3 linked regions of the Homo sapiens genome follow. The protein of the gene in region 2 interacts with the protein of the main gene of each other region in a pairwise test. Each region holds a gene or a part of one and is shown on either strand. Other genes may lie near its edges.

What was found.
Region 1: the proteins of ROCK1 (region 2) and CFAP206 interact in binary tests that used the Homo sapiens proteins (3 or more experiments, as listed by UniProt).
Region 3: the proteins of ROCK1 (region 2) and FRMD5 interact in binary tests that used the Homo sapiens proteins (3 or more experiments, as listed by UniProt).

Annotation. Positions count from the first base shown.
Region 1 is NC_000006.12:87,422,908-87,434,119, forward strand, and holds part of CFAP206 (cilia- and flagella-associated protein 206), read left to right. Parts: intron 1-2,532; exon of another isoform or gene 2,533-3,149; intron 3,150-3,618; coding exon 3,619-3,738; intron 3,739-5,718; coding exon 5,719-5,917; intron 5,918-8,125; coding exon 8,126-8,266; intron 8,267-11,212. UniProt on the Homo sapiens protein: Essential for sperm motility and is involved in the regulation of the beating frequency of motile cilia on the epithelial cells of the respiratory tract. Required for the establishment of radial spokes in sperm flagella.
Region 2 is NC_000018.10:21,037,240-21,048,451, reverse strand, and holds part of ROCK1 (rho-associated protein kinase 1), read left to right. Parts: intron 1-2,984; coding exon 2,985-3,160; intron 3,161-4,265; coding exon 4,266-4,350; intron 4,351-5,742; coding exon 5,743-5,887; intron 5,888-6,216; coding exon 6,217-6,355; intron 6,356-8,888; coding exon 8,889-8,980; intron 8,981-11,212. UniProt on the Homo sapiens protein: Protein kinase which is a key regulator of the actin cytoskeleton and cell polarity.
Region 3 is NC_000015.10:43,867,836-43,879,047, reverse strand, and holds the end of FRMD5 (FERM domain-containing protein 5), read left to right. Parts: intron 1-876; exon of another isoform or gene 877-3,242; intron 3,243-4,585; coding exon 4,586-5,163; 3' UTR 5,164-5,825; coding exon of another isoform or gene 5,826-5,900; 3' UTR 5,901-6,227; coding exon of another isoform or gene 6,228-6,241; 3' UTR 6,242-8,284; downstream 8,285-11,212. UniProt on the Homo sapiens protein: May be involved in regulation of cell migration. May regulate cell-matrix interactions via its interaction with ITGB5 and modifying ITGB5 cytoplasmic tail interactions such as with FERMT2 and TLN1.

The sequences.
Region 1 (11,212 bases), on a different chromosome or scaffold from region 2:
GGGGGAGGGGTCTAGAGTATTTTTTTTCTTTTTCAGACAGGGTCTCGCTCTGTCACCCAGGCTGGAGTGCGGTGGTGCAATCTCGGTTTACCTCTGTCTCCAGGGTTCAAGCGATTCTTCTACCTCAGCCTTCTTGGTAGCTGGGACTACAGACACGCGCCACCACGCCTGGCTAATTTTTTTGTATTTTTAGTAGAGACGGGGTTTCACCATCTTGGCCAGCCTGGTCTCGAACTCCTGGCCTCAAGTGATCCACCTGCCTCAGCCTCCCAAAGTGCTGGGATTACAGGCGTGAGCCACTGCGCCCAGCCTTAGAATATTTTTTTATTTTTATTTTTTTATTTTTCTTTTTTTTTTTTGAGACGGAGTCTCGCTCTGTCGCCCAGGCTGGGGTGCAGTGGCGTGATCTCCGCTCACTGCAAGCTCCGCCTCCCGGGTTCACGCCATTCTCCTGCCTCAGCCTCTCGAGTAGCTGGGACTACAGGCGCCCGCCACCACGTCCGGCTAATTTTTTGTACTCTTAGTAGAGATGGGGTTTCACCGTGTTAGCTAGGAAGGTCTCTTATCTCTTGACCTCGTGATCCACCCGCCTCCGCCTCCCAAAGTGCTGGGATTACAGGCGTGAGCCACCGCGCCCGGCCCAGCCTTAGGATATTTTTAATTGTAGGTTTTAATAAGTATTGCATGTCGAATGCAACTTTTATTTTGGAGAACGTATGCAAATGTATTCCTGTTTCTTGTTGCTGTTGCATAAATCTTAAAAGACTTTAAAGACTGCATTTTCGTATTGATTCCTAAAACAAAACTTAACAAGCAAGGGGGAAAAAACTCTATGAGGGTAGACAAGAGACCTATTTGATATAATAGATAATAGTGTATGGAGGAATAAAGCAGGAGGAGGAGTAAAGCTTAAACAGCAGTATGGGTAAAATTAAACAGGATACACGTTACATTTATGAATAAAAATTTGTTAGTTGTAATACAATGATAATAGTTGATAGTACTCATGAAGTAATTATTTTTGTCATTTAAAAGAGTCTAGAAAGCATATAATTAGGCTACATACAGATGTCTGAGAATTCAGATGCACCTTTTTCTCTTCAAATAGATGTCATTCTTTTATGCTATACTGATAAACCCACACCACAACCATTTCTGGTGACATCTTGGGCAACACAGTATAATGGTTAAGAGCTGGGCTGTGGGCTCAGATGGTTTGGGATCCACCAAGATTGCTACCCCTTATTAGCTGCATATACTTAGACAATTTACTTACCTTACTATTCTTTGATTTTCTCATTTGTACTTATCCCTTTTTGTATTTGTAAGTATTTAATGTGGTGCTTAGCACATAGTAAGAATAAATATAATTATTTTTTTTTATTTTTTTGGGACAGAGTCTCGCTCTGTTGCCCAAGCTGGAGTGCAGTGGCTCGATCTTGGCTCACTGCAACCTCCGCCTCCCGAGTTCAAGTGATTCTCCTGCCTCAGCCTCCCGAGTAGCTGGGACATAGGCAGGTGCCACCACGCCCAGCTAATTTTTTTATTTTTAGTGGAGATGGGGTTTCACCGTGTTAGCCAGGATGGTCTCGATCTCCTGACCTCATGATCCGCCTACCTCAGCCTCCCAAAGTGCTGGGATTACAGGCGTGAGCCACCGTGCCTGGCCAAATATAATTATTTCAAATTCAGTGTTTAGCAACTTATTTTCAGACCATGATTGTTGTATCAAATATATTGTTTTTCTTTCAATGCTCTGACTTTTAAGATTTTCTGCATTCTTCAATGCGACTTTTTTCTGTTTAATTTTTCATACTTTATTCCTTGTATCAATAGATTAAGAAAGTTAAAGTTTCCCAAGTGTTGATTTATAATGTTTGTGTCATACAAAAAGTTCAGTTTCACAAAGAGTAACATTCAGTGATCTATTTAAATGTAATTTTAATCCTTATTTTAAGGTAAGGGCTTTACAATAAGCTAAATACACACAAACCTGTATATCCTGAACTGCAAAAGCAGATTCCATAGCCATATATGTTTTAATCAAGTACACATTTCCACAGTGAACAAGTACTTAGAAATATGTTAATAGAATACTATCCCAAATGCTTATCCTGTCATCAACTTTTAAAACTGTTCTTGCTACTGAAAGCATTTATTCTGAGAAGATTTAATCTGATATGGGAAAATGAATTCTCCTAAAACTTAACAGATAGTATTTTATAAGCCTCAGAAGGTTTTAAATCAAAAATGCCTTCCAACAAGCATTCACGTGAAACTTTTAGTTTCTTGAAAAATAATCACTCTTGTTATAAGAAGAAAAGAATATTAAGACAAATTTTCTTTTAAGACAGATACAAATTCTTACAAAGAACCGTATTTTTCTATATCATCTCCTTAGAAGGATCACAAACCAGTTCACTACCTTTAATAACCTTTCAGTTTACTGTTGTCCAAAAACTTTAGGATACATGAAGCATGTCTTAGTTATCATAAAGTCAAATATATCTTTTAGATCTTGCATAATAAATAGCTACAGTATAGCTTACAATGGCACAAATATAGCTAACATATAAATACTACTTCATCCTTTAGATAGTCAAAAGTCAGAAGGAAATAAATGGTTTACAAGGTACTTTAACTTATTATGTGTGATCATTGAAACCCAAGAAGTATTTCAAGTATGCTTATTATGTAAAGACAGGCGATTAAAGGCTCAAAGATCACCGTAAAATTGAAGGCATGAAAATAAAAACTGAAAACTTTGTGTTTCTCCATCTTTCAGTTACATGGCTTGATATCTATCAGGACCTTACTATAGAAAATATACAGTTAATATATGTACTTCCCCCAGACGATAATGAAGTTTCAGAAAGTACAAAAGGTGTCAAGATCCATAGTTTACTTCGTCAAATGGTTTTCCAGTTCATTTCAGTTCTGCATTCATAGTAATCAAGTCTTTAACCCTAGCAAACTTCCTTAGGTCCCTTCAAATCAAGAAAACAATATTGTAAACTTGTACTCAACCTCATCTTCCAATTCACATTGCCTTGTGAGTCATTTCAATGATGAACTCTATGACAGGGTCTTCAAGAATATCCCCTGCTCAGTACAAGGATTCTGGCATCCCCTAAACCACATGGCATACATCACAGGTGAGATCTCACTAGCTTGCCAACCTGCAGTGCCCTGCTGGCTCACTCCTAACAGGTTTTTCTCAATGTGATTTTATTAAATCTTGTTATCAACATAATTTTCAGAGGAACCCCTAATTAATTTTATCATTGAGGAATAGGAAAATAACAGCTATACAAAAACGGATTCTTGAGGATCCATTTCTCAAGAATGCAATTATATTTAAATCTAAGAATACCTGTATACATTTAAGAAAAATTATACCTATTGTATTTCAAAAGATTCATCCATCTCACAAATATCTTGGGAGCCCCATACATATGCTGGTACTGTTCTAGGTGTTGAGGATCTTGCGGAGAACAGACTTCCTGCTGTCATTGAGCCTACTTTCAGAGGATGTGGGGAGCAGGTATGGTCTGAAACACATATGATTTTTATAGTAGAATTATAAAAATATTAATGCAAATTATGTTGTTTTCACAGTCAGATATAATTACTGGTGCTCAAGAAGTGGAAATGATGACAAAACAGTTAGGAGCCCATCTGGAACAACTAAAAATGACCATAAAATCAAAGATAGCGGTCCCAACATCACAAGTCTTTGTAAGTATTTGTCATAAACTTTGACCTTAAGGTGAATTTCCTTTTGAGCCCTATAATATTGGATCGCAAGTCATTATAATTATATTTAATTTCTAAAAATATAATGTTTTGTATAAATTGATCCTGTTCTTTATGGTTACTTTGCCGTAATAGTGTGCTATAAGTTGGATGAGAGAATTCCCCCACATAAGCAACTGCTACTAAAGGAACTGCAACTGTATAGTATGATAACCATATCAGTATTGGCTGTGACAACAGAAATAATCATTGTACTGTGGTTGAAAATGTATTCATAGTAGCTGGTCAGAAATTGCCTCCAGTACAGAGATGATGTAACTTGTGACCTTTCTGAAAAGACAGATAATAATCACTTTGTTTACCAGGCCTGCACTTACATTGAGTTTCTGATTATCTGCACCATTTTATGGACAAACCTGGCAAACCTTATCTGGATAAGGAGGTATAAAATGTATGTGCAGTATTATTTTTATTTATTTATTTATTTACTTCAAGACGGAGTCTCGCTTTGTCGCCCAGGCTGGAGTGCAGTGGTGCAATCTCGGCTCACTGCAAGCTCCGCCTCCTGGGTTCACGCCATTCTCCTAGCTCAGCCTCCCGAGTAGCTGGGACTACAGGCGCCCGCCACCATGCCCAGCTAATTTTTTTTGCATTTTTAGTAGGGACAGGATTTCACTGTGTTAGCCAGGATGGTCTTGATCTCCTGACCTCGTGATCTGCCCGCCTCGGCCTCCCAAAGTTCTGGGATTACAGGCATGAGCCACTGCGCCCAGCCTATATGTAGTATTATTATAGAGGATATGAGGCTGTAATAACTTTCTGCAGTCATCCCCAGTATTTGGTTTAAAAACCAAGAAACAAAAGGCTAAATTGTTTAACTTAGATGTGGGGCCTTATTGATTTTTTCATTTGTTCTATAAGTCAGTGACCTTTAATAGGAATAAGAAACATATCTCACTGGCCTCAAATATTTAACTTGCAGCTCACAAAACATGGCCCAAGATATATCTCTATACTTTCCAGGTTCTTTTGCAATGATTTGGCCAGAAAAAATCTAATTATAGTGAGTCATATTTAGCTTTTTAATTTATTTTTTACTTTCTTAATATTGTTATATTTTATTAGATGATCAGTCAGGAAAACAAACAAAAAATGGTCTTCAGTGACACTTTTGTGTTCATTCTCCTCTAAACACATCTTCAGCATCTGATTTTTGGTACTTATGAAGGTGTTTTTTTCTGTATAAATAGGTGTTAACTTGGTGTCCTTGCAGGGTGCGTGGGGGGAACTTTCTATTTTGCCACCTTGCTCCACCCTCCTTTTTTTTTTTTTTTTTTTTTTGAGAAGTAGTTTTGCTCTTTTTGCCCAGGCTGGAGTGCAATGGCCTGATCTCAACTCACTGCAACCTCCGCCTCCCGGGTTCAAGCGATTCTCCTGCCTCAGCCTCCCGGGTAGCTGGGATTGTAGGTGCCCACCACCACGCCTGGCTAATTTTTGTATTTTTAGTAGAGACGGGGTTTTGCCATGTTGGCCAGGCTGGTCTTGAACTCCTGCCCTCAGGTGATCCGCCCACCTTGGCCTCCCAAAATGCTGGGATTACAGGTGTGAGCTACTGTGCCTGGCCGTATTTTTTTTTTTTTCTTAAGACATTTTTCCCTTGGTTTTTTGAGGTGAAGAGTCCATAAATCTTTCTTAGGTGATCACATGTGTTTGGCTTTTTAAAGTAAACTAACTTTATAATAATCGTACTAAAATAAAATGCTTTGAAATAAAATGCAAGTTTATTTTCTCATAATTTATGAGTTAAATGTCTATCTAAAGTCTACTGTCTAAGTTCGTAAGACTTTTGCTTAGGGAGAATTAACTTCTTTACAAATGACAATTGTATTTATCTTAAAGAGTACAGTGATTTATAATTTTATTACACAGTTGCATTTTGAATATTTTTTTTCTCTTCCTCAGCCTATCTTCATTGCACTTTCTACTCTGTGGACCAGCTTGCAAGACGAAACTATTGTGGTTGGTGTCCTCAGTAATTTATTCACTCACATTCAGCCATTCTTGGGTGCTCACGAACTATACTTTCCTGAGAGAGTGATGCAATGTCATCTTAATGGAGCGACTGTGAAAACTGATGTGTGTAGAATGAAAGAACACATGGGTAATGAAAATCATCCATTATTTCCTCTTCTTTTTAAAATTACCTCTAGAATAAAGTCACTCTTTTGTTCTAAAAATTTCATATCTTTCTGATAAAGCATTAAACATTTTTCTTGATTATAAAGTACTAATGAGGGCCGGGTGTGGTGGCTCACGCCTGTAATCCCAGCACTTTGGGGGGCCGAGGCGGGTGGATCACCTGAGGCCAGGAGTTCGACATGGCAAAACTCCGTCTCTACTAAAAATACAAAAATTAGCCGGGCATGGTGGTGGGCGCCTGTAATCCCAGCTACTGGGGAGGCTAAGGCAGGAGAATCACTTGAACCTAGCGGGTCAGAGGTTGCAGTGAGCCAAGATTGTGCCATTGCACTCTAGCCTGGGTGACAGAGTGAGACTCCATCTCAAAAAGAAAAAAAAAAAAAAAGCACTAATGTTTATGAGAGGAGATGTGGAAAACAGAAAAAATGTAAACTGAATAACTTACTGTCCAGCAATAACCATTCGTAGTGTTATCGTTCATGTTTTGGTTAACAATCATTTTTTGTGCAGATGTGTTTCTATTGCAGTCCTAGTAATTTTATTATTGATTTGTTGGAGAAAAGAATATTAATCATTGCTATTTTGTTGCAAATAAAGCTCCATTTCTTTAGAATGTTATTTGTTATATATCTACCTCAGATTCAAGTTGGGAATTTACAAACCAATAAATGTTATCCCTGTAAAATTAATTGAGCTTATTTAGGTCCTTTAGAAGATGCATTGATTCTTACAGAAAAACAATCTTTATCAATAAACTTTTAACCATTTTAGACCCTTCTATCTTAGCTAAAGATACTTTAACATTTATGAGGAATGCCAAAAAAGAGCTTGGGACTTGAGATGTTGATGTTGCATAAAAAGAGAGTTTTTTCAGAAACTGAAATTAATAATTTACTCTATGAATTTTCTTTTCAAATTCTATTTTTTAAAGATGAAAAATAAAAATATAGCAGTCATTTCCCAAACTATTAGAATTCATAAAAACTGAAAACTAAACCAGAAACTAAAAAATATCCTTTCAGTTCAAGTTTTTTATTGCTCATTTCATTTCATTAAAGCAGCATATGTAAGCAAATATTAAATGAAATTGAAAAGTTAAAGTATCTCCAACAGTGTATATTAAGCTAACCATATTGGCAAGACTGTTTACCTGCAACTTCTTAGATTTAGATGTGTCATTTTCTACCATACGTCAGAACTTTTTATTCACTAGAACACTATTAAATTACCACTCCATTGAATTGGTCAAGCCAGTGTTGTTCTAAAAGAATTTCATTTACACCTGCCACATATTGTCATTGTTAGAGGCTTTCAGGCATATCAGGAAAAAAGAGAGAGGATTTATTTTCTCTAAATTATGCATTTACTTTTAGTGGTAGCCACAAGATCGTTTGTGGTGCCTGCTTTTTGGGTTTAGAACCAGGCACAGAAGTGTACGTGAGATTGTGAAAGCTAAGAAACTTCAGGAACAATGTTTTATAAATACGTGGTATTATTTGTGTAAAAATTTATTCAGTTTGCTTATCAAATGTAAATAGGTAAGCTAACCAACATAGGAAGAATTTTTAAAAATATAAAGAACAAAAATTACACACCTTGTTATCAAAATCAGGTAACATTTTCTTGACTTTCTGCTCAGAACCTTCTCTGTTGTTTCAAGAAGCAATAGTCCTAGTTTATAAGCATCATATTAAACATATTTTGCCACCTAGCATATTATTAAGAACAACACTATATTGAATGAGGTCAATATATCTCTTTCTGGGTCACATAGCAGCCAGTCTATTCTGCTCAACTCCTTGGGTTATTTACTCTGCAGCAGCAGGAAGCACCACACACTTTCGGAAGTGCCCCAGTCAGCTTTTCTCTCAGCAGCAGAGCATGCTTGTCAGAAATGGCCTCTCCTTTCTGTTCTTCATTCTGGAGCAAAATCCTACCTCCAAGTTTGCCCCAGAAACTTACGTGACGTTATATGTCACTGAGGTCATTTGTACTTCTTTGCTTGAATAGACTTCCTCATAAATCTGGTTTTGTGAATATCAAGTTTTTGCCCATCGGGAAAAGTACAAAGCAATAAAAAGGTAATGTTTAGAATGAGCTACTGCTGATTTATTTTGGAAATTTAACCTTCTCACTGAATTAAAGCTTTTCTTCTTCTCCTTCATTTTAGAAGATAGAGTAAATGTGGCAGATTTCAGAAAACTAGAATGGCTTTTCCCAGAAACAACAGCAAATTTTGATAAACTGTTAATTCAATATCGGGGATTTTGTGCTTACACGTTTGCTGCAACAGATGGTCTTCTCCTTCCAGGTATATCATTGGAAATGAGACTGCTCTCCTTTCCCCGATTTTTTCTTTATATGGAGTTCTGTCATTGTCACTTGAATATTCACTTTAAAAACTTTATGGAATCTAATGGTGAACTAACAAAGGATCTACAAAGATGATCCAGACAAAGTCTTCATTTTGGAGGTGCTCTGGTAGACTGACATAAGCAAGAAATTATAAGTGATTAGTAATGGAAAGTGTATATGTGTTATGAAATATGGATGCTGCAGTACCATTGAAAGGGGATGACTCATATGGCCAATGAAGAATTCTAGAAATGTTACACGACATTGGCTGCATGCAGTGGCTCACGCCTATAATTCCAGCACTTTGGGAGGTCAGGGCGGGTGGATCACTTGAGGTCAGGAGTTGGAGATCAGCCTGGCCAACATGTCGAAACCCTGTCTTTACTAAAAATACAAAAATTAGCCAGGCATGGTGGCACACGCCTGTAGTCCCAGCTACTTGGGAGGCTGAGGCAGGAGAATCACTTGAACCCGGGAGGCAGAGATTGCAGCGAGCTGAGATAACTCCACTGCACTTCAGCTGGGCAACAAAGTGAGACTGTCTCAAAAATAAAACAAAAGAAATGTTACACAACATTACTAAAAATATATCTTCCAAAGTAATTACTGAAAGAGCAACACTTATTTGACATGTTTGTTAAAAAATATTCTTTGTTACTTTGCAGTTATATTTCACTGGCATAGATAGGATTTCTCTGTTAGACGCCTATAAGGAAATGGCTAATATCAAGTAAAATTTCTCTATGATGTATATATTATTAGAGCTTCTCCAAAATAAAGAATAAATCAGAGATAGAGATGAAAGAAATTATCATCCAAAAAGTGCTGTGTGAATTGTGAATAAGAAAAAGCCTGCCAGGGCTAGAATGAAAACAGTGTGACAAGATTGTGTCTTAATTTACTTTACGCCATTAACCTTATTTTTCTTCTTTCTTCATTATTTTTTTCTTTATTTCTTTTGTTATGTTTCACAATTGGGTATTTTTTCATTAAAAATAACTATTGGGATTGTGGGTATACAGGCTAGAGAGAACACACAATTGGCTCATTTAAAAAATGTTATTACATTTTTGATAATGGGAATAACAAAATATTTACTGTGGGAAGTTGAAAGTAATATTCTGAGGCCCAGTGAGGGTCACTGATACTGGGGAGAAAACAATCAAGAGCCATGCAGAAGTAAAATGCAATGGAATGTAGATAGTTTCCTTTTCTTTCTCCTCCCTCCCTCTCTCCCTCCCCTCCTGCCTCCCCCTCTCCATTCCTTCCTTCCTTCCCTGTTTCACACAAATAAGAAGGGAAAGGAGAAACACGGATGTGGGGTGATGGCAGAGGAAGCAATGATATGGTTGGAAAAGCTATGGGCTAGGGTTCAGAAGAGCCTGGTCTGTGTCCTTAGTGAACTAGGTAACCTTTATGAAATCTCACACCTTCTGTGGACCTCAGTTTCTCCTCAAGAAAATGAAAAGGATCAACCAGGAGGTCTGTATGGTCCCTTCCAGGGTCTCCCAACTCTGGGTCTAAGAAGAAAGAGGGTGAAGTAGAAAAGTAGAAGAGCTTTTGGGGCCATGAGTTTCATATTCCTCTCTGGATAAGTGAATTCTGACGATTTCTGCTTACTACATTATTTCTACTTCATTATTTTCTGGGCAGCAGCAACCTGCATTACCTCAGATGAATTCTGTAGAACTTCCCTTCTTCCATTCAGGAGTGGAGACCACATGCCTTAAATCCCAGGGTAACACTGGCACTTACCAGTCAGAATCCTTTTCCGATGACTTCATTGACTTCATTGCCTACCACGCTTTGCCTCGTTTGCTCCACTTCAGTGGCACTGGCTTTCTTGCTGTTGTTGAACAGTTGAAGCCCACTTTCACCTCAGAGCCTTTGCACTCTTGGAAAAACTCTGCCTCCCAGGTTGCTAATCGCCTTGCTGCCTCATTTTATTCAGCCTTCCCTAATCACTCAATTTAAAATATCAATTGCACACTTCTTCCTTTTACTATGTATTTAACCTGCTTTATTATTTTTTTCATGTAGCACATGTCACTCTGTGACCTATGATATATTTGTGATTTTTTGAGAGCAGGGAATTTGTTATCTTCTATAGCCTTAGCACCATGAACATGGTCAATAACTATTTGTTGGATAAATGAAAGAATAAATGAGTAAGACAGTGTTGCTCTTTCTAATACAACTTCCACAAACTATGTGGATATTTAATTATCTATAGTCTATGTAGTATCTTTTTACAGTGAAAAATATTTGCTAATATGCAAATTTGAGTTTTGGAAAAGATGTCCCATTTTTGTAGTTCTTACTGGGTTATTTTAAACATAGTCCTTGCAGTAGTTAGTTGAAGTAGCTTTGAAAAATCTACCAGATGAGTAAGTGGCTTTTCATAAAAGATTTTTACAATTATTATATCTGGATAGTGGAAAGTATTTTTACATAAAATACAGTTTAAAATCATACTTTAACATAAAAATATAATTAGTATGTATTTCACATATCATTTAAAAATGTATAAATTAAAATGATAATTATAACATTTTAGCAAAATAAAAGCATAACTGATATGTTAAAAATGGAGTGGAAGGGGCTGGGCGTGGTGGCTCATGCTTGTAATCCCAGCACTTTGGGAGGCCAAGGTGGGTGGATCACCTGAGGTCAGGAGTTCAAGACCAGCCTGACCAATTTGATGAAACCCCGTCTCTATTAAAAATACAAAAATTAGCTGGGTGTGGTGGTGCACACCTGTAATCCCAGCTACTCAGGAGGCTGAGACAGGAGAACTGCTTGAATCCAGGAGGCAGAGGTTGTAGTGAGCTGAGATCACACCACTGGACTCCAGCCTGGGTGACAGAGCAAGACTTCGTCTCAAAAAAAAAAGGAGTGGAAG
Region 2 (11,212 bases):
AAAATTTAAATAGATACTTTTAGTTAATATTGAATTTTTTTCCCCAAACATGAGGCTCTCATTTTGTTTAGCTGTCTCCTCATTTATCTGTCTCTTATTTTGTGAAGAGGAGATAATAAGAGAAATGAAGGGAAAGTGAGAGGAAACCAAGTTAAGCTAGGTCACCAAATAATACTTGTCTTTCGGTTTTCAGTGGAAAGAAAAACTAGAAGTCAGTAGTTTTAGGTCCTCGTCTTGATTGCCATAGGCCTTTCTCTGAAGCTGTGGCCATGTTACTTAACATCTCTGGGCCACAATTTCCTTGTTCATAAGTCTGAAAGTTGTCTTTGATTGGTTATGTTCAATTGTGGAGGTACCTTAGGCAAAATCATGGGGTCAAGTGGGGTTTTGGGTAGATTATAATTCTGAGTTTTCTCTCTGCTTTTATGAGTTCAGCTTCATGTTTTATCTGTCTTATGTATTGGGATCCTTAATGCAAAATGTCATACGGGGGAAGTTAAACTGGGCTAGACCATTTCTAATTTTCTAACATGTTTTTGTGATTTATTTATAATATATAATGAAGTCTGTCCTTAAAAAGCATACCAGTAATTGGAATTAAAAGGATATGAAAAATGTTGAAGGTTTATGCCATAGCACTTTTTTTTTTTTTTTGAGACGGAGTCTCGCTCTGTCGCCCAGGCCGGAGTGCAATGGTGCGATCTCGGCTCACTGCAAGCAAGCTCTGCCCCCTGAGTTCACGCCATTCTCCTGCCTCAGCCTCCCGAGTAGCTGGGACGACAGGTGCCTGCCACCACGCCCGGCTATTATTTTTTGTATTTTTAGTAGAGACGGGTTTCACTGTGTTAGCCAGCATGGTCTCGATCTCCTGACCTCGTGATCCGCCTGCCTCGGCCTCCCAAAGTGCTGGGATTACAGGTGTGAGCCACCGTGCCCGGTCACCATAGTACTTTTAAACTTGAAATGTCTATGTTTTTACCAACTATGTAGATCAGAGTTTCTCAGGCTTAATACTATTGACATTTTGGGCCAGATAATTCTTTGTTGTTGGGGGCTATCCTTTATATTATTTCAGTTACTAATGTGTTTATTTAGGATGTTTGGCAGCATTCCTGGCCTCTACACAGGGGATGCTAGTAGTGACTCTTCCCACCTCACACACAGTTGTGACAACCAAAAATGTTTTCACCACTAGTTAACAACCACTGATACATGAACGTTCAGTGTCTGTTAGTGAAAAAATATGTGACATAATTGTTACTTTCAGGGCTATTTACAATTTAGGTATTCAGAGCTTTATTTCTCTGGATATATTGTCTATAAATAGGGTGAAACTGTCACCAAATTAACAGTATTTCTTTATGGGGCCCAAATGACAAATTATATACTTTAATCTGGGATAGTCATGAAATGCCACTTTGTTTCTTATCCTTCTCTCTTCCCCCAAAATACATTTTTTACATTAAAATAACTGAGTCTGGGCCGGGTGTGGTGGCCCCCATGCTTGTAATCTGAGCACTTTGAGAGGCTGAGACAGGAAGATCACTTGAGGGCAGGAGTTCAAGACTGGCTCCCAATCTCTACAAAAAAACAAAAAATCAAAACAAAGTAACTGAATCTATAACTAAAATTATTAAACACAGTTGAAAAAAATGAAACATTAAGAAGATTTTAAGACAAACATCTGGGTAAATTAGAGATCATCTTCTCTAGGGCTTGTTTTTTTTAGTTTAATTCTAAACTTCTTGTATTTACTTAAAATGTTATTTTATAAATTTGCCCTTCTTTTTATTTGATCCCCAGTCACATAATATATTTATGCCTGATATCCTCGCTAATTTCACATTAGTGGATTTTGCTGTTACTATTTGAACCCTAGCTGCTGCCTTCCTCCTACTTCTGTGTTAGCTATTACTGCTCCTCCTCCTGACTGCTGTCATTTGTTGAGCATCTGTTGCACTAAGTGCTTTCTATATTCAGTAATCTTTTTTAACAACCCTCAACCCTGAAAGACAGTTAATCTGTTAGGTGCACTGTTACTTTATGGATTAGTTTATGATTTGGTTCATTAAGCCTTTATTAAGCAATTGCTAACCGCCAGGCATCTGGATACTTGACTAAGCAGCAGGTATAAAAGTTAAACGAAGTATAGTCCTTACAGTGTTTTAGAAGAGATTATAGTCTCATAGACTCGGGTAGGTTAAGCAAATTACTAGTCACACAGCTAATAAGAAACAGCTGAGGCCGGGCGCAGTGGCTCATGCCTGTAATCCCAGCATTTTGGGAGGCCAGGGTGGGCGGATCACGAGGTCAGGAGATCGAGACCATCCTGGCTAACACGGTGAAACCCCATCTCTACTAAAAATGCAAAAAATTAGCCGGGCGTGGTAGCGGGTGCCTGTAGTCCCAGCTCCTCGGGAGGCTGAGGTAGGAGAATGGCGTGAACCTGGGAGGCGGAGCTTGCAGTGAGCCGACATCACGCCACTGCACTCCAGCCTGGGCGACAGAGCGAGACTCCGTCTCAAAAAAAAAAAAAAAAAAAAAAAAAAAAACAGCTGAAACTGTAAGCCAAATTTATCAAAGACTTCTTGAGCATTGTGATATTGATATAAATTTAATAGTAGACCCCACTGATGCACAAGTTAAATTAGAAATACAGTATTTCTTTGCCTAGGAGATTTGTATATTTACTGAAAATATTACAGTTTAAAAAAATTCTCAGTAAAAGAAATTCAAATAGTGTAGAAAATTATGAAGAAAGGATATCTCCATGTAACTCTTCTGAATAATTATGTTATAGTCATTTTGCATATACAAGGGTCTTTGTGGCATTTATGTTTGTCTTTTTTTAAAACTAGACTTGCAACTTCTGTAATTTGATTATTTTACTTAAATCTTTTATTAACATTTTTGCCACTTTTTAAGTGAAACAATTTTGTTTAACATTAATGAATGTGTTTTGTTTGTTTTTTCTATTTGTATAGCTTTTTTATGCATTCCAAGATGATCGTTATCTCTACATGGTGATGGAATACATGCCTGGTGGAGATCTTGTAAACTTAATGAGCAACTATGATGTGCCTGAAAAATGGGCACGATTCTATACTGCAGAAGTAGTTCTTGCATTGGATGCAATCCATTCCATGGGTTTTATTCACAGGTAAAGATAAAAGTGCTTTAAATTTTCTCATTTGTTGAGGGAAATAGCTAAAAATAACTTTAACATTTCTTACTCTCAGTTCACCCATTCTTCTTCCGTATGACATAAGTGACCTTTCAGAACTCAAGACTCTGGCCAGGCGCTGCCTCACGCCTGTAATCCCAGAGCTTTGGGAGGCCGAGGCAGGCAGATCTCTTGAGCTCAGGAGTTTGACACCAGCCTGGACAACATGGTGAAACCCATCTCTACAAAAAAAAAAAAAAAAAACACAGGTGTGGTGGCATGCACCTGTGGTCCCAGCTCCTTGGGAGGCTAAGGTGGGAGGATCGCTTGAGCCTGGGAGCAGAGGTTTCAGTGAGCTGAGATCTAGTCACTGCACTTCAGACTGGGTGACAGAGTGAGATTCTATGTCAGGAAGGGGGGAAAAAAAGAACTCCAAACTTTGAAGTTTATAATTTTAGCATTTCAATTTAATGTTGATATAAATGTATTCTTTAATATCCCTTAATCTGATCATATAGCCTTTAAATGGTGTTCTGAAAAGTAAAACTTGTAAACTAGTTTTCTAAGGTATGTGCCAGGAGTTAAACACTTTGATGTTAATTTTTTAAATATGTAACTTAATTTGCTTTTAATTAGTGAATAGGTCGTATTTATTCATTAGACGAATAGTTTCATTTGTTGTACAAACACTGCTTGAATCCTGTGTGCAGTTGCTGTGCCTACATGTCAGGGATCAAAAATGAAAGTGACTTAGACCCTGCCGTGGGGTTTTTTTATGTACTTACCTATCTAATATGTTTCAATCACCTTTTATGTCTGAGTGTTGTATTTTTGATGGTCTGTCTCTCTCAAATGATTTGATTTTCCCTCTGAAAGAATGAAACTTTTAAAAAAGGAATATATATGTTTTCTTCTGAGGCATTAACATATAAAGAAGTTTCTTTGATGAAATTTAATTTATAGATGTGGATAGAGAACACATACAGATCAAAGATGGCCTTACCTAGATTGAGGATGCTTGACCTAAAATAACTGCCTCATATAATTTTTACAGTGTCTAATCTGTTTCAGAAAATACTGTACTATTTTTTCCCTCCTGCAGAGATGTGAAGCCTGATAACATGCTGCTGGATAAATCTGGACATTTGAAGTTAGCAGATTTTGGTACTTGTATGAAGATGAATAAGGTTAATTAACTAGATTTTAATTTAGTTTTTGCTAATTCAAGGTAGATGCTTCTTTAGAAAATGGTTTAAGAATTCTTTAGAAAATGGTGTAAGAATTTACTAACCATAGCTGGACTTGTCCAGAATTAATATGACCTTATTTGTTGAACTAGATACCATGGTTTCAATGTTGTATTAGTAACTTGTTAGTGATTTATTTTTTCCTCTCTATTTAGGGTAAATATGGATTGCCAGATTTACTAAATCCTTCATAACAACTCTAATATACACTACTGGTAACTAGGAATGGAATTAGCTTAAATGTCACTAAATACTTATGCCAGTGTTAAAATTAGACTTTCATAAAAATTGGATTCCAGTAATGTGTGTATTTTTTAGTGTTTTACTTCAGTTAACATATAAAAGATTTTACTGCTTATTTTAGGAGTGAGTCTTAAAAGATACCTATCCTCACTGTTTATATAATAAATAACATATACACAGCTGTATATGTATATACATATTATGTATATGTATATACATATACATTATGTATATGTATATACATATAATAAATAACATAAATAAATATGTTATTTATATAATAAATAACATATACACAGCTGAAGGAGCTGAAGGAGCTGTGTATATGTTATTCCTTCACTTCATATACACAGTGAAGGAAACACTGCATGAGAACTTCTGTATGAACATTTAGTTATAATGCTGTTTCATTAATACCAGCGAATATAGGTAACAGCTAACAAGTCTCTCAGGTTTGTTGGGGGAGGGCAGTTAAAATTCACATCAAATAGACATTCAGTGTGCTTTACACTATTATGCCCTTTTCCCATACATATGCTTCCCCAGTTTGTATTTGTACAGTCAGCTTTTGTATGTTTCTTTTGTAGTTTCAAACATAGTTAAATAGCTATTTTAGTAGAAAATAATGAAGTCAGTGTTTATACCAATATGTTGTAAAATGCCCTATCCTATGAACTCCCCAGTGTATTTGCACTGGCCTGTGTACTTGTTCTCAGCAGTTAAATGGTTTCATGATATTGGCACAACTTGGGGAATAATAAATGTGGCAGTATGTTTTTCTAGTGAGCATTATTACAAAATAATCACTGGTGTGTGTATATATGTGAATACACATATAATGTGTGTGTATATGCATTCACATGTATACACATACATACATTATATGGTATATATGTATATGGTGTGTATATAGTATGTATATATATGATTAAGCTGTGTTAATTTTTGTCAGGTTTCCATTCAGTTTTAATATATGATATTTTATAGCTCAAAGATTTGGAGTCCCATAGGTAATATTAATAAGAAAGTCATTTTAAATAATTGAGACTTTATATCCTAATTCAAAATTTGACCTGCCGCGCTTTTTAGGAAGGCATGGTACGATGTGATACAGCGGTTGGAACACCTGATTATATTTCCCCTGAAGTATTAAAATCCCAAGGTGGTGATGGTTATTATGGAAGAGAATGTGACTGGTGGTCGGTTGGGGTATTTTTATACGAAATGCTTGTAGGTGAGTAAGGAAGATTTTATGTCTCTCTATTACAGTTGTTCATCTCAAAACTTGCCACTTGGCTCTTTCTAATATATTTATTATATTAAGCAATCTTGATTTTATTTGTGGGTAATAAACATGATCCAAACCTGCTTCGTATGTGTTTTTAAAAGCATTTAGAGGCTTAGAGCAACTTTGTGATGTGTTCTTTTATATATTAGGTGTATGTTTTTAGTTTAATACATACCTAATAATCTTTTTAAACGGGTAACTTTGACTCTTCCTTTGAAACTGACTTTTTAAAAATGTATTTCATTTTGCTTTTGTTTTCTTTATCAATTTTTCAGGTGATACACCTTTTTATGCAGATTCTTTGGTTGGAACTTACAGTAAAATTATGAACCATAAAAATTCACTTACCTTTCCTGATGATAATGACATATCAAAAGAAGCAAAAAACCTTATTTGTGCCTTCCTTACTGACAGGTAAATAATTTTAAAACTGAGCCTGTATTAATTCTGAGGACTTCTCATCTTCTGCTCCATTTTTAAGGTCCATATCTGAGCTTCTACATGTAAATTGTTAGAATATAAATGACAGTGAAACCTGATGTAATTTTATGATATTCTAGATGTCTTTTGTAGATCTCAACTCACTTATCATACCTAAGAAATTGTGATAATAATACAGTCTTGGCTGATGGCTAAACTAGATGACTTTTTTCTTTTATTGTTCAATTTTTAACTTGGTTAATTATAAAAATTACTGTGTATTTTACTGAATCTAAAAAAATTTTTTAACATAACATCTCTGAAATTAGAGTACATCTCACAGTCAATGGTATGAGTTGGGAGCATCCTTTTTCATAGTGGTATAAAAACGGTGATACACCTTATACTTTAAACCATTTTAGATTTGATGATGTATGGTATATGGTTGTTGAAAGAGTCAATAGTATAAAGCCATTTTTAAAAGTATACTATCTTTTTTCTTCTAGACATAATAGTTGGTGTTCCATCTTGTAGATCCAACAAGCATTTTAATAATAATGTCTGTCTGCATTTTTGAAAGAAAAATGGCATATTATATATACCTTTGTGGTTTACTTTTGAAATTTGAAAGTGAACCAGATGTATTAGTAAGATTATATTTAATGTTTATGATTGTATATTGTTAAATATTAGGGAGACCTAGTACTTTTAAATATGTTTCAAGTTGAGATTTGCTTTAACTTGTCTCCCTTCATTATGTCCTTTAGAGCTTGAAGTATGGTTTTTCAAATGTTTACTTTTTTTTTTTTTTTTTTTTTTTAAATAGAGACAGGGTTTTGCTCTGTTGCCCAGGCTGGTTTCAAACTCCTGGGATCAAGTGATCCTCCCACTTCAGCTTCCCAAAGTGCTGGGATTACAGGCCTGAGCCACCCATGCCTGGCTAATTTTTACATTGATTGATTGATTGATTGAGACAGAGTCTCACTCTGTTGCCCAGGCTGGAGTGCAGTGGCATGATCTCGGCTCACTGCAACCTCCACCTCCCGGATTCAAGTGATTCTCCTGCCTCAGCCTCCCAAGTAGCTGTGACTACAGGTTCCTGTCACCATGCCTGGCTAATTTTTGTATTTTTGATAGAGAGGGTTTCACTATGTTGGCCAGGCTGGTCTTGAACTCCTGACCTCATGATCTGCCTGCGTTGGCCTCCCAAAGTGCTGGGATTACAGGTGTGAGCCACCGCACCTGGCCAATTTTTACATTTTAATATAAAGCATTGTATTATGCTGTTTATTAGGTGCTAGGGATATAGTAGTGAGGAAGATACAGAGCCACTTTTCTCAAATACCTCATAGTCCTTTGGGGGAATTAGATAAGCAAATCAGACATTTATAGTACACACAGCTAATTACCATGAGATAAGTACCATGTGCCGGAGAACCATGGAGAGGTTTTCTAATCCAGTTTGAGAGTTAGTGAAAGCTTCTTGGAAAAATTGTCACATGTCTAAGCCAACTTATCTTTTAGCTTATGCAAAAACTTAGAATTTAGAGTATTTTCTTTATTTATAAGCACTGTACTAGGGAAAAAAGGTGCTAACTTTCTTTTTCCAATTCAGCTAAAATCACATTTTTAAAAACTTTTTGCTCACCAAAAAAGAGGCTGGTATCAGTAACTTGTCCAGTGAAAGCTCTGAATTCTGTGGCAGTATCAAGAATTAGTAGTCATTGGCTTTTGAATGGTCAGAAATAATTAATAGATTATAAATTGGAAGTTCAAAATTTTAAATGTGTTTCTGGAGGTTTTTGGTAGCATCTGGTATTGCTGCCTAAGTAAAGTTTTGGTTGGGGAAAAAAAAGCCTAACTTTACCATTGTAAGAAAAAAATAACACACACACACAAAAAACTGTCAAGAAAATGCATGGTGCTTTATTCATTTTGCTAATGAAGTAAGGTGGTGATTAATCTGGATTTTTGTTGTCAGTAGAAAAGTCATGGGTGTTTTTTGTAGTTATTCTTTAGTTTTCTTTTTTTTGAGACGGAGTCTCGCTGTGTTTCATCCAGGCTGGAGTGCGGTGGCGCAATCTCAGCTCACTGTAGCCTCTGCCTCCCGGGTTCAAGCGATTCTCCTGTCTCAGCCTCCCAAGTAGCTGGGACTACAGGCGTGTTCCAGTACACCCGCTAGTTTTATATTTTTAGTAGAGATGGGGTTTCACAGTGTTGGCTGGGCTGGTCTCGAACTCCTGACCTCAGGTGATCCACCCCACCTGAGCCTCCCAAAGTGCTGGGATTATAGGCATGAGCCACCATGTCCAGCCTTTCTTTAGTTTTCTTTTAAAAAAATTCTTTAATGTTCTCAATCTTTAACATATTTTCTATTTGGGCTGATACTATGCTGACAATATAATTTCACCTTAGAACTATATTTGTCGTCCTACACTGATTTAATATCCTGCCCACAAATAAACCTGGACAGGTTATAATAAGATCTTAAATGATTGATTACTTTTCTCCTTCTGTCATTATTCAGGGAAGTGAGGTTAGGGCGAAATGGTGTAGAAGAAATCAAACGACATCTCTTCTTCAAAAATGACCAGTGGGCTTGGGAAACGCTCCGAGACAGTAAGTTTTTTTTTTTCTTTCATATTTTAGTGAATATTTGAAAGTAGTTGTGGTAGTTTGTTGAAACTACATTGCTAAATATTTGTGTGTATCTGATGAAAATCAGAAGCCACAAATACTATATGGGAATTGTCCTAACCTATTAATTTGATAATATTGGGCAGATTATATTGTTACTCCTCTTATGTCCCACGCAGGATACCCAGATGAAATATAAATGTAATGGATTTAGGCTCACCAGTCATAATTTTACATTTGATCTTTGTTGAATTGTTCATTTTAGGCGTTAGTTATCTTATTATGGAGGTGGTCAATAAGTAGTAAGTAATGAGATTAAAATATATGTTTTTGTGAGAAGACAAGTTATTCTCTTGTTTTTATTAAAACCCAAAATATAAGAAGGTTCTATTATTAATTCCAGAATTCAATTTAATTTTATTTATGAGTTTATAGGATATTGTGATATACTTGATTCCATCAGGCTTTTGCAGCTGGCAATTCAGAAACAAAAATGTATTGTATAAGAAACTAATTTTCAGTCAGTTTAGAACACTTTCTTACTTTTTAAAAAAAGTTAAAATTACAAGATGATTCACAGAAAACTCTACAACATAGCTGAATCAAAATTATCATGACACCAAAGGTTCTCATCATCTTCGTGGATTTGGGAGGTAAAGAATTCATCTTTCCCCTGCTGACATCTTAGGATTTTTTTCCCTGTTCATCTATCAGAGAAAGGATAATGTATCTCAGTCCCTAACTTGCTGCCTTAGCAATAGCAGTGAATAGTAACAATGGAAATGAACTCAGCTACCTTATTTTAGAAAGTTACACAGTAGTTATTTGTCTTAAGGACTGCCTATCTAGTTGAGACAGTGAAGGATAGTACTTTGCAGAGAGATGGAAATCTTGTTAATTCTGATGAAATAAATCATGTAGGTTTGCTAATATTAGTGAAGCATTCTAGTTATCAAATATTTTAAAAGAACAATTGTATTGCCTTCAAGTACTATAGCACAGTACTTACATTGTGCTGAGCTATAAAATTGTCTAAGGAGGAGAAAGGGAAAATAAATCCTCTGGAAATTAAGAAATTATACAACAAAGAACATCATTGAATGACCAGCTGTCTGAGAAGCTGTAAGAGCAGCTTGACTTTGGGAGAATTTTATTAGCAATTATATACTAGGAAATAAGGAACTTCCTCCTCTTCAGAATTAAATGTGACATAATTATTATCTTCATGCTGCAAGTGAAATTGTTGCATGACAAAGAGATGATCAGGGAGTGAGAAATGGTTACATCAAAACACTTTTTGTGTTTTTATTCAGGTTATTCTCTTAGTAAAGTTTAAGAAGGCTGAAGACGTACAAATATTATTATAAATCTGAATAAAACTTTGAAGGGGACTGAAGAAAATACAAAATAATATTTTGTATTGCTTTAAATTCTTTTTCAAAGTTAAGCAATGCATAAATAATTATAGAATAACCACACAATAAATCAACCGCAAAAGTAACAAGGATATTTTTCCTTTTATGTATTGAAAAACCGATCACTTGAAAGAGGAGGTAATTTAGTCAACAACTATTTACTGAACACCTGTTGTATATTGATCACTGTTCAATTTCAGACACTGGGAAAACAGCAGTGATCAAACCACCAAAAGTTTTCTTTCTCCCTTCTGGAGCTCATAGTCTTATGGAATTAGGGAGTCCAGATCAGTGGCATTTTATTATATTGCTGTACCTCCTTCATAAAACTACTTAAGATCTGCATTATCTATGGTTTTATTCTAGCGTGGTTAGATTTAGCATACTTAAAAGAATTTTGGTAGTTTTTCCTAATTCTAAGAGGTCCTGTTTTGTGGTTATTGGAAAAAACAAAGAAAAATTGAAATCTGTAGAACTTATTGTTCTTTGCTTCCCTTCCCCTCTTCCTACCCCTTCTTTACTTCCCACCCCTAAAATACCAAGAATTCTTTTATTCTGAACTGACCTCTTTGACCTGCTAAATTTTTAAAACTTATGTAACAGTTATAATTCCTTTTAATTTTTTTGGGTTTCCATTTTCCGTGGCAAAATTGCTTTCTAATACAAATAATAGTTTTTTTTGGTATTTTTACCACTTAACATGTCTCCACATTGCAATGGCAATTAATCTTCACCTTGTGTTCCTTGGTAATGTGGGAGCAGGATACAAAATAGCTTGATTTTTGGCAGAATTTCCATG
Region 3 (11,212 bases), on a different chromosome or scaffold from region 2:
GAGAATCACTTGAACCCGGGGGTCGGAGGCTGCAGTGAGCCGAGATTGCACCATTGCACTCCAGCCTGGGCAATGAGATGGAGTGAGATTCCATCTCAAAAAAAAAAAAAAAAAAGAAAAGAAAAAAAAAAAGAAATGCCTATCTATCCATTATCTTGTTTAATGAGAGCACCAACAGCTCCCAGTATGATGTGGCTCCAGGTGGTCCTCTGACATTTTCCTCTTCTGATGTCACAGCATCTGCCTCTCCTTCCCCACAAGCTGAGGGGTGTAATCGTAGGTTAAGCTAAGCTTTTCATACTTTGAAAGATCCTGCAGTCAGAGCTGTCTTCATGAAGGGGCAGGCCTTTGAAAGGGTGGCAGGCGCCCTATGCAATGGGGCTGAGGACTGCCTGGGAAAGGAGCCAAGCAAGCAATATGCTGCAACCAGGGCCTTAAGGTTTCTGCTTTATCAGTGACCCATAACCTGTCCCAAGGTACATATTCCTCAAGCTGCATGTGCAAATGGGGACATCAGGGAGGAATACTGTGGAAGAGAGATCAGAGGAACAGCAAGAGCTCTAGAACAAGGGACAGAGACTCTTAATTTCAGGTTATTTCAAAACAGTTTCTCGAGCAATTAAGACCTAAATCTAAGGTAGATGCTGGCTGTTGATTTAATCCGTCCTGGCCCATGGTTCCATTCCATGGAATCCGACTACAGTTAAGTCATCACTTAACAGCGTTGACAGGGTCTTTAGAAACTGCAACTTTAAGCAAAATGATGTACAATTAAACTTTTTTTTTTCTCATCAACATTATAACAAAATGGGGCTGGGCGTGGTGGCTCACATCTGTAATCCCAGCACAAAAACCTGTCTCTACAAAAAATACGAAAATTAGCTAGGCGTGGTGGCACATGCCTGTAGTCCCAGCTACTCAGGAGGCTGAGGTGGGAGGATCACCTGAGCCTGGGAGGTCGAGGCTGCAGTGAGCCGTGATTGTACCACTGCACTCCAGTCTAGGCAATGGAGTAAGACTGTCTCAAAAAACTAAAGAACTTTAAAAAAATTATAACAAAATGATGCTGAAGAAAACATTGGAGGACCTGCTGTAACATCATTTGGCTTAAAGTCATGGTTTCCAGGAACCTGTTGACAACATGAGGACTTAATAGATATGATCAGCAGGATCATGAACTAGAAAGCGGCTTGGATTCTATCCTTGGTTTTGCCATTAACTGCCAACCACATGACTTCAGATAACCTCTTGCCCTCACTACCTTGTGGAGTTACTGAAAGATAAAATCAAAGTGCTTTAAAAAGATGAAAGCATTATACAAATTTAAGATTTTAGCACAGGGACAAAAAATACAGCTAAGACTATGAGGAGCTTCTGAAAGCAGAGATTGAGAGCTGTGGCAAATATATGAGCCGTGACGCAATGGGGAGCGTAACTAGATGGCAGGTGCCCTGCCTTTGCCCCCACCCTCTCTCCCCATTGTCCTACTCATTCATAACCCAGATTCCAGGGCTCATTCCTCTGGAGAATCCTTAACTGTGCCTGTGCCAAGACAGGCTCCACAAGGCTGGTCAGGCAGGCTGCCTGGGTGCAAACGGCCAAGCCATGAGGGAGCCAAGGAAGATGGGACACACTGCTTCTGAAAGGTTACTAACACCTTTTTAAGAGAGACCTTTGGACTGCTTCATGTCCTGGAAGAAGGGGAAAAAAGAGACCCTTTGGGCTTCTGGAGCTAGCCCTGAACCAAAAAACTCCCTAATCAACCTGACTTAGGTAAAACCTTTACTGAGCTGGGAATCTGGTTCAGTCTGGGATTGTCAGGGACTATTTCAGGGCAACAGAAGGGGACTGGCTTTTCTTGTCATAGGTCACAAAGGCAGAGAGAACCACACCAGCATCACCAAGATGGCCAGGAGTGGAAAATGCAGACATTGAGCCTAAAACAAGAAGCCATTTCCTTGGGAGCACTGTGATGGGGGCCGCGCTCACTCACTATATGCCCAAAGCCTCTGGCCTGGGTGGCTGCTGTTCAGTTGAGAGTGTAACCAGCTCCTGTTTTCCCTGCCAGGGCTTGAGTCCTGTGAGAACCTTGGGAAGAGAGAAGAGATAATGGGTAGTTTTAGGGGATAGAATACCCCTTCCTCCTACCAAATGTAAGAGAAATCCACCCCCGCAACAAGATCTTCTCAAACTGTTTTGTGCTCTGAAGTGTCTAAAGATAGGGGAGCTTTTCAGCCTATTCTAGACCCAGCTCCTTCTCAGAGGAAAAGAGAGGGAGCTGGCCAGGGACTACTCCCATGCCCCCTCAAGAAGAGCAGAGAGAGTTTCTACCCCATCATTCCACAAAGTCAGAACAGCTAGAACGGAGGCTGAAGAGACTGAGAGCAGCTGCAGAAATCCAAAAATATTGACCTTATAAGCTCAAGATGCTGTATGCTGGGTTTTTACAAGGATATTCGGTATTTGATGAAACCCAGTTAGGCATGACATATTCCCCTTCTCCCCATTCCTACCTCTCTTTTATTAAAAATTTTATAGTTACAGTGTCTATGTTGCCCAGCCTGGTCTTGAACCCTTTGGCTCAAGTGATCCACCTGCCTTGGCCTCCCAAAGTGCTGGGATTACAGATGGGAGCCATCGTGTCTGGCCCATTCCTGCCTCTTAAAGCCCTCCACCCAACAGGCAGACTTGAGACTCAAACCGTGGTCCCAGCTCTGCATCAGGGGTAGTTTGGAATTCAGATTCTTTCAAACTGGGGTAAAAACCAGGCCCAGAGTTCAGAGTTCAACAACAAGCTTCCAAGATGCCGCCCAAAGGAAAAAGTGGTTCTGGAAAAGCGGGGAAAGGGGGTGCAGCCTCTGGGAGTGACAGTGCTGACAAGAAGGCTCAAGGTCCCAAAGGTGGTGGCAATGCAGTAAAGGTCAGACACATTCTATGGGAAAAACATGGCAAAATCATGGAAGCCATGGAAAAGTTAAAGTCTGGGATGAGATTCAATGAAGTGGCCACACAATATAGTGAAGATAAAGCCAGGCAAGGGGGCGTCTTGGGTTGGATGACCAGAGGGTCCATGGTGGGACCATTTCAAGAAGCAGCATTTGCCTTGCCTATAAGTGTGATGGATAAGCCTGTGTTTACAGACCCAGCAGTTAAGACAAAATTTGGATATCATATTATTATGGTTGAAGGAAGAAAATAAAATCATATGAAAGACTGAAAGAAAAAAAAAAAAAAAAAAAAAAACTAGGCCCAGGACACCAAAGGCAAGAAAGGCAGAATCTTTAACAAATTAGGGGCTGGGTGCGGTGGCTCACACCTATAATCCCAGCACTTTGGGAGGCCAGGAGTTCTAGACCAGCCTGGCCAAAATGGCAAAACCCCGTCTCTACTCAAAATAAAAAAATTAGCTGGGTGTGGTGGCAGACACCTGTATTCCCAGCTACTCAGAAGGCTGAGACACAAGAATCGCTGGAACCCGGGAGGCAGAAGTTGTAGTGAGCTGAGATTGCACCACTGCATTCCAACCTGGGCGACAGAGTAAGACTCCATCTCAAAACACACACAAACTAGGCCAAAACCGTAAGCAAAAAGCAAAGAAAAACTCTTCTAAAATGGCCACTGTGATTTCTGTGCCTTCTCTTGTTTCATACATACATATATATATATATATATATATATATATATTTTTTTTTTTTTTTTGAGACAGTCTTTCTCTGTTGCTCAGGTTGGAATGCAGTGGTGTGATCTTGGTTTACTGCAGCTTTGACCTCCCAGGCTCAAGCAATCTGCCCCCCTACAAAGTAGCTGGGACAACAGGCATGCACTACCACACCTGGCTTCCTCCTCGCCCCGAGGCAGAGTCTTGCTCTGTCACCCAGGCTGGAGTGCAGTGGCACGATCTCTGCTAACTATAACCTCTGCCTCCCAAGTTCAAGCAGTTCTCCTGCCTCCCCTCCTGAGTAGCTGGGATTACAGATGCCCGCCACCACACGTGGCTGATTTTTGTATTTTTAGTACAGACGGGGTTTCACCATGTTGGCCAGGCTGGTCTCGAACTCCTTACCTCATGATCCGCCCGCCTTGGCCTCCCAAAGTGCTGGGATTACAGGCATGAGGCACCACGCCCAGCCTTTTTCTTTTTTTTAAGATGGAATCTTACTCACTCTGTTGCCGAGGATGGAGTGTAATAGTGCGATCTCAGCTCACTGCAACCTCCGCCTCCCGGGTTCAAGCGATTCTCCTGCCTCAGCCCACCAAGTAACTGGGATTACAGGCATGTGCCACCAGGCCCGGCTGATTTTTGTATTTTTAGTTGAGATGGGGTTTCACCACGTTGGCCAGGCTGGTCTGGAACTCCTGACCTCAAGCGATCCACCCATCTCGGCCTCCCAAAGTGCTGAGATGACAGGTGTAAGCCACCATACCCGGCCTGTCGTCTTCTCGATATATCAAAATAGAGTGCAGTGGCTACTGCTGCTGGTCATGTGGGTGTGCAGAATGGTACCCAATAAAACACAATGGGTGCTACTGGAAAGCAAAGGGTGCATTGGGACACAGCCTACTCATGTTCCTTTTGCCTTTCTAGGCCTAGAGTCCTTACGGGACAGTGCCCATTCCACACCAGTGCGTTCCACTTCCCATGGGGACACCTTCCTGCCTCACGTGAGAAGCAGCCGGACAGATAGCAATGAGCGAGTAGCTGTGATTGCAGACGAGGCCTACAGCCCTGCAGACAGCGTGCTGCCCACCCCTGTGGCTGAGCACAGCCTGGAGCTGATGTTGCTTTCCCGGCAGATCAATGGAGCCACCTGCAGCATTGAGGAGGAGAAGGAATCTGAAGCCAGCACCCCAACTGCTACAGAGGTGGAGGCCCTTGGGGGAGAGCTGAGGGCCCTGTGTCAGGGGCACAGCGGGCCCGAGGAGGAACAGGTGAATAAGTTTGTTCTAAGTGTCCTCCGTTTGCTCCTTGTGACCATGGGACTCCTCTTTGTTTTGCTCCTCCTCCTGATCATCCTTACCGAGTCTGACCTTGACATTGCCTTTTTCCGTGATATCCGCCAGACCCCCGAGTTTGAACAATTCCACTATCAATACTTTTGTCCCCTCAGGCGATGGTTTGCCTGCAAAATCCGCTCAGTGGTGAGCCTGCTCATTGACACCTGAGAAGGCATGACTCCTCCCAAAAACTAGCCAGGTGGACCAAGGAACCCGGCTACCCATTCCCAGCAATGGGACCCATCGCGGAACCATCGGCACATATACCAAGTCCTCCTCTCATGACTCAAAGTCCACTGCAGCCTAGGAGGGTGTTTCCCAGAAGAAGAAAGGGATAGGCTCATGCCCTGTCTAAACAAACTGGGAAAACTCATTTTCTTCAGAAGTTATTTCAAGAAAGGCTCAGCGACTCTGTTTCTCATCTTTCCAATTTGCAGGATAATTTTTGGTTTTGAATTTTGATTTTTCATAGATGTATATTATTTTGAAGTATCAAATAAAAATAATTTATTTTACTATTACTGATTATTGCAGTAGTATCACCTAGCAGAGGGGACACTAGTTGAAAACTAGAGAGCTGCTGTCCTCTGTATTCTGCAGGAGCTTTTCCTGCTGGTGCCACTGGGTTCCAGTAGACTCATCACTGCAGCCTCAGCAGGGCAGGCCAGGGATCTGGACAATGGGGACTGTTTAGTTTTTTGTTTGTTTTTTTTGCCAGCCAGAACTTTTAAAAAAGTAAACATCCATGTAGAATGATTAAATGGAAAGTTGCTTCTTATGATGGTCTGAGTTGGATTTTCTTTTCCTTTTGTTTTTTCAAATCTGAGCAGAGTGGGCATCTGAAGGGACCACCGCTACAGCAACAGCAGCATCAGGGGTGGGGTAAGTCTGTCCCCTTAGTCTAGAGCCTAGTGGGCATCACCATAGTTTTGTATAATGAAACTAGACTTAACGTGATTTTTTTTTTCCGAAGAACCTCAAGACTTTTATAGTGCTCCAGGGGCGTTAAACGAATTCAGTGGTACCAGAGATAGATAGTTCTGTCAGAAATGTTGGACAAAGTGTAGTTAAGAGAAAGCAGAGTTAAGTTACCTGAGAGACTGTTGAGATTTGGATAGCAGTGCTTATTTTATATACACCCCCTTGACCCAAAGACTATTTCAATTTATATTTTAACAACGAAATGTTATTTTCTTAACAATTCATATTTTGTTTTTACTTTATGGATTAAGAAAATAGAGCCTGATGAACTAAACGATGCAAGAAAGAAACTGATCCTGAGAATGAAAAGCTTCAGAAAATAGAATTCCAAGATCAACAGCCTTAGAAGGGACCAGGAAAAGAATCTTTTAAAATAGATTTCTAAGAGATGCCTACAAAACACAGAATGTGACCGTGGCAGAGACCAACACTTAGATGTAGAAATGCTGCCCCCTAGGGTCATCCTCTGCATAAGTTCTAGGAAAGCATCACCATCCTTGCAGAGGGAAGTCCTCGAAGCACGCAGCACAGGCATATGAAGGGCGAGTGTGGGATCCTAGGCCCAAGCTCTTCAACTCTAAAACCAATCACACACAAGATCCTGTTTTCATCTCAGGGAGAGATTTCTAAGTCATCTGGGGCTTGAGGGCTTATTTAAGGGTGGTCAATGGACATATTCCTGGACCCACACAAAAGTAGAGCAGCTGCTGATACCCTAATTGGACAGCCCCAAACGCAGAACAGAACAAGTCACTTGTAGACTTGACCTCCCCTATTTTGTCCCCCGAGATGGTAGAACCATGTCCATGTTTACAATATGACAACTGTGGAATAATTGGGGTTCTTAGGGAGAGATTTGCATAATTTTAAAGACATCCTTTCATCTGGACCAGAGGTCAATCAACTTATGTCAAGTGCTACACAGTAAATATTTTGGTTTAGCACGCCATACTGTGTCACAACTGCTCAATTCTGCCATCACAGCACAAAAACAGCCACAGATAATTTGTAAATGAAGGAACATGGCTGTGTTCCAATAAAACTTTATGAAAACAGTGAGCTGAATTTAGCCTACAGGCCATAATACGCCAATCCTGCTCTAGACAATAAAACTGATCCTTACCAGTATGTTAGCAGAAGAGGGTCAGTCAGCTCTGTTTCCATGCCTGACATGTATCAAAGATCTGGGACCTCTTCCCAGTGGAGGCACTAGGGTTGCTTGTTTAAAGGGTGCTTGAACAACTAACCAGCAAAGAGATGTCTGATGCCAAATGGGCAAGATCAAATACTGGAATGCTAAAACACAGCTGGAATCTAAGAAGGGAAGAGGGCTTCTCTGACCATTTTCATACCAGCAACAATTTAGGCAGAATTATAAACATCTATTTATCGAGTGACAATACAAACCGAAGGAGATCCTAGTAGAGATTAGGGGTCAGTTAAAATCAACTAGCCACTGCCACTTGTCATCTACATAGCAAAGGCTTTATTTAGCACAGGACTAACGTGAAAAGTAGACCCAGAGATGAAAAGGCTGTCAGGAGACAGGGGGCTGGTGTCCACCTGGTATCTACTGTCTTATGCAACATAGAAGATTACCTTTTAGTGTAGTGCTCCTACCTCAGTTTGTAGAATCTGGTGTTTCTATGCAGTGAGTGATAGCCTCAACTCTGACCTTTCATATTCACATTAGAGACAGATGCAGTATTCCATATCCTAGTATGTTCCTTGTGTCTAGAGTTCTAACAGTACAGTAGTCTATGCCATTTCTAACAGCTAAATTTTGCTCTGTAAACAGAAACTTTAGGGTTGTTTTTTTCCAGGGCTCATCCCAGAAAATATGGATAGAAAAGTTTCCTTCAGTTTGCTTTTCAAATAGTGCTTGAATAATAAACCTCCTTTGATTGGTGACTAGTCTTTTTTGGTATATCTCCACCTTTAAAAATTGTTCAAGTTTTTAACCTGGTTATACTGTGTTCTAACATGTCTCTCATTTTCTCTCAAAATTAGTTTATCTCATTGTAGAAAAAGCAATGGTTTTCATAGCTTCATCTATCAGGAAATAAAACTCTTACTAAAGAATAGCATACTGCATCTTTAAGCAGTAGAGGGTAAACTACCTGCAAATGTGAATTTCTTAGATACATTTAAAAATATATAGTTGTTAACCTTCTGTGTGCCAAAAACTCTTAAGTTACATTTTCCTTCAAAGCAATGTACTTTTTTCTACATATGCAGTATGTAGTTAGCATAAAATCATTGGTGCCATGAAGATTATTTTTAAACTTAAATAAATATTTAAATATCATGGAAGAGTGGGCTCTTTCTTTAATAATAGCCTGTCTTACTTTTCCTCCCTTAAAGTTACTAACACATAGATAAAAGGATACTGGTGGGATTTACACAGCTGACTACTATTCACTTGGATCATATAACATAATTATTTTGCTTGTATCCACCTATTATCCTTGTCCTTACCCCCAGATAAATACTGTTAGAAACTGAGAAGCGGCCAGGCACAGTGGCTCACGCCTGTAATCCCAGCCCTTTGGGAGGCCAAGTCGGGAGGATCACGAGGTCAGGAGTTCAAGACCAGCCCGACCAACGTGGTGAAACCCCCGTCTCTACTAAAAATACAAAAATTAGCCAGGTGTGGTGGCGGGCGCCTATAATTCCAGCTACTCAGGAGGCTAAGGTAGGAGAATCGCTTGAACCTGGGAGGCGGAGGTTGCAGTGAGCTGAGATCACACCACTACACTCCAGCCTGGGTGACAGAGCAAGACTCCACATCAAAAAAAAAAAAAAAAAAAAAAACTGAGAAGCTATATATGTAATAATTTTAAAGTGAATTGGGTATTTTTCTGATGAGGAAAACCAAGAAGACTAAGTGATTTTCCCAAGATTACATAGTGGTAGAGTCCAAACTAGAACCCAGATTGTCCACCTTCTGGTCTGCTGTTCTTACTCAAGCCTGGAGTAAGTGGGAGCACAGAAAATACTTTCTAAGAAGGAACTACAATGATACCACCACCACATATTTACAAAATATATCCCTATAGCATTATCTCATCTGATTATGTAACCATCACTCTGTGGCTACGGAATTGGAAATGGTCTTCTAAATTCCATGAGGATAAGAGGTGATAATGGGGGCTTGGTCCACTGTGCTAGCTTCTTACCTAATCTTTGTCTTTTCAATTCTGCCTGCCCTCCACTCTCCCATTTCTGTTGCCAGATCATCCTCCTAAACACCAATCAGGCTATGTTACCTCCAAATTTCAGAGGTACCCACTACCTAAAAAATGCTATCTAGCACCCTATCCCCAGCGGAATTTTTTGTTTTTATGACATAAGATTTTGCTTGAAGTGATCCAAAGAGTAAAAAGCACAAGAAACACTGGACCTGGGTGGCTTCCCGTGGCCCTGCCGATTCACAGCAGCCTCCCTTCTGCTGACAGCTTATCAAGAACTACCTGTGCACACACCCCTGTAGGACTCTAGTCCCTACTCCCTCTGCTTTGGGTTCCTCTAGCACAATCTAGCTCCTCTGCACCTGAACACACTTTTGGTTTTAGCTCATGAACAGGCTTCCTCTTCAGACCCCTACGACCTGCTGATGGAATGGAGTAAAACAAGCAAAGCACCCTTTTAATAAATTTCCTCTTGCCCAGTTTCCATTTTGGGGAAAATGTATCATAAAATGTTTTGTTCTTCAGCTCCGTGTAAGTGTACTAAATGTTATCTTCCTCATAAATTCTACCTTTTCATTTGAAAATCCAAGTATTTACAGCCAAATAAGTCAAAATACAATCTGCTGTCTTGTTATTTCTAGCCATCAACACCCTACTAAAAAGCAGGGGGAAATGTACTAAGTCAGAAAGGACCGCCCAATAGGACATTGAAGTTTTTGGAATCTGAAGTTAGAGGGCATATATTTCCTCTTCTCAGATTGATTCAGAAGGCATGTGTGTCTTCTCCCCCACCCTACCCCATGTACTGTACATTAGCTGAAAGGATTTAAATCCTTGTATCCATAGCCCTAAGGCTCCCTGTTTTCCTGGAGAACTCCCCTTGCAAAATCTTCTTGGTGGAAAGGAAGCTCAAAGACCAGAATACTAAAATAGGACTTAAGCAACTCAGATTCTATTAATTCCTAATCATTTGTGGTCTCTCCTAGTCTGACAAAGTCTCTGACAACCAAAAATGAGAATTGTCTGCTCCTTCCTTAAAAGTTACATAACAAAAGCCTGGGTATCTTAAAAAAAAAAAAAAAAAAAAACTCAAGCGGAATTCAGAGCTTAAGAGATATCATAAAGGCCAAACTTACAGAAAAGGCTTATCCCGAAGGAGGCAATCATAATACACACATAATTACAGAAGCCACACAGCTGTAGGCAAGTCTGTGGGAGAAGTACCTTTCACTACAGATTACAGTGTAAGAATGTCCCAAGGGAGACAATTTTCTTTTATGTGCTGTCTAGATTTAAACAATTACTCCATTAGAAAGCTTATCACCAATAAAAAAAAAAAAAAGTCCCTACTCATTCTCCTTCCTTCCTGCACTGCCTGAAGATATAACTCTATAAAGTATAACTGAATATAAATAGCACTGTTTATGAAGCCACAATGGCAAAAGAAACCACAAAAGTGAGGAACATCAAGAATTTGCTAACATTTATTGACGAGCCCAGGCAATTACTGCCAAGTATTCAAAGCTTAAATGATGGTACTAATTTGATTGAGAGTAGTTTTCAGCATCTTTAAAAACAAAAACAAAAACAATTCCCGTAGAACTAACCACTCTAGAACCCATGAGATTAATTGGTATAGAAATGAAAAAGGGAGCCTAAAGCCTTTACGATGTTTCCTGAACAGTTTAATTATAACTCAACCTCACCTAGCTTTTCTTTCCCTTTATAAATTAACATTTCCATCTCACTTGTCAATTCTTCTACTTATATCAACTAGAAAATAGAGAACTATTGCTTATAAACACCTAAACCTATTAAAAAACTAAACCTTTTTACACTTAGATTACAGAGAAGAAAATTATTTAGAAATTGGTTTTCAAGGAAATTGTATATCACTATATTTCTCTGATATACAATTATGGGAAAATATTTCCTCTTAGAATTCAAACATATTGCCAAAGCCATTTACAAGTCTTTCAGTATTTGGCAATGAAGAATAATGAAAAAAGTTGGATAGATGTCACACAGTAATATTAGTAACTGAT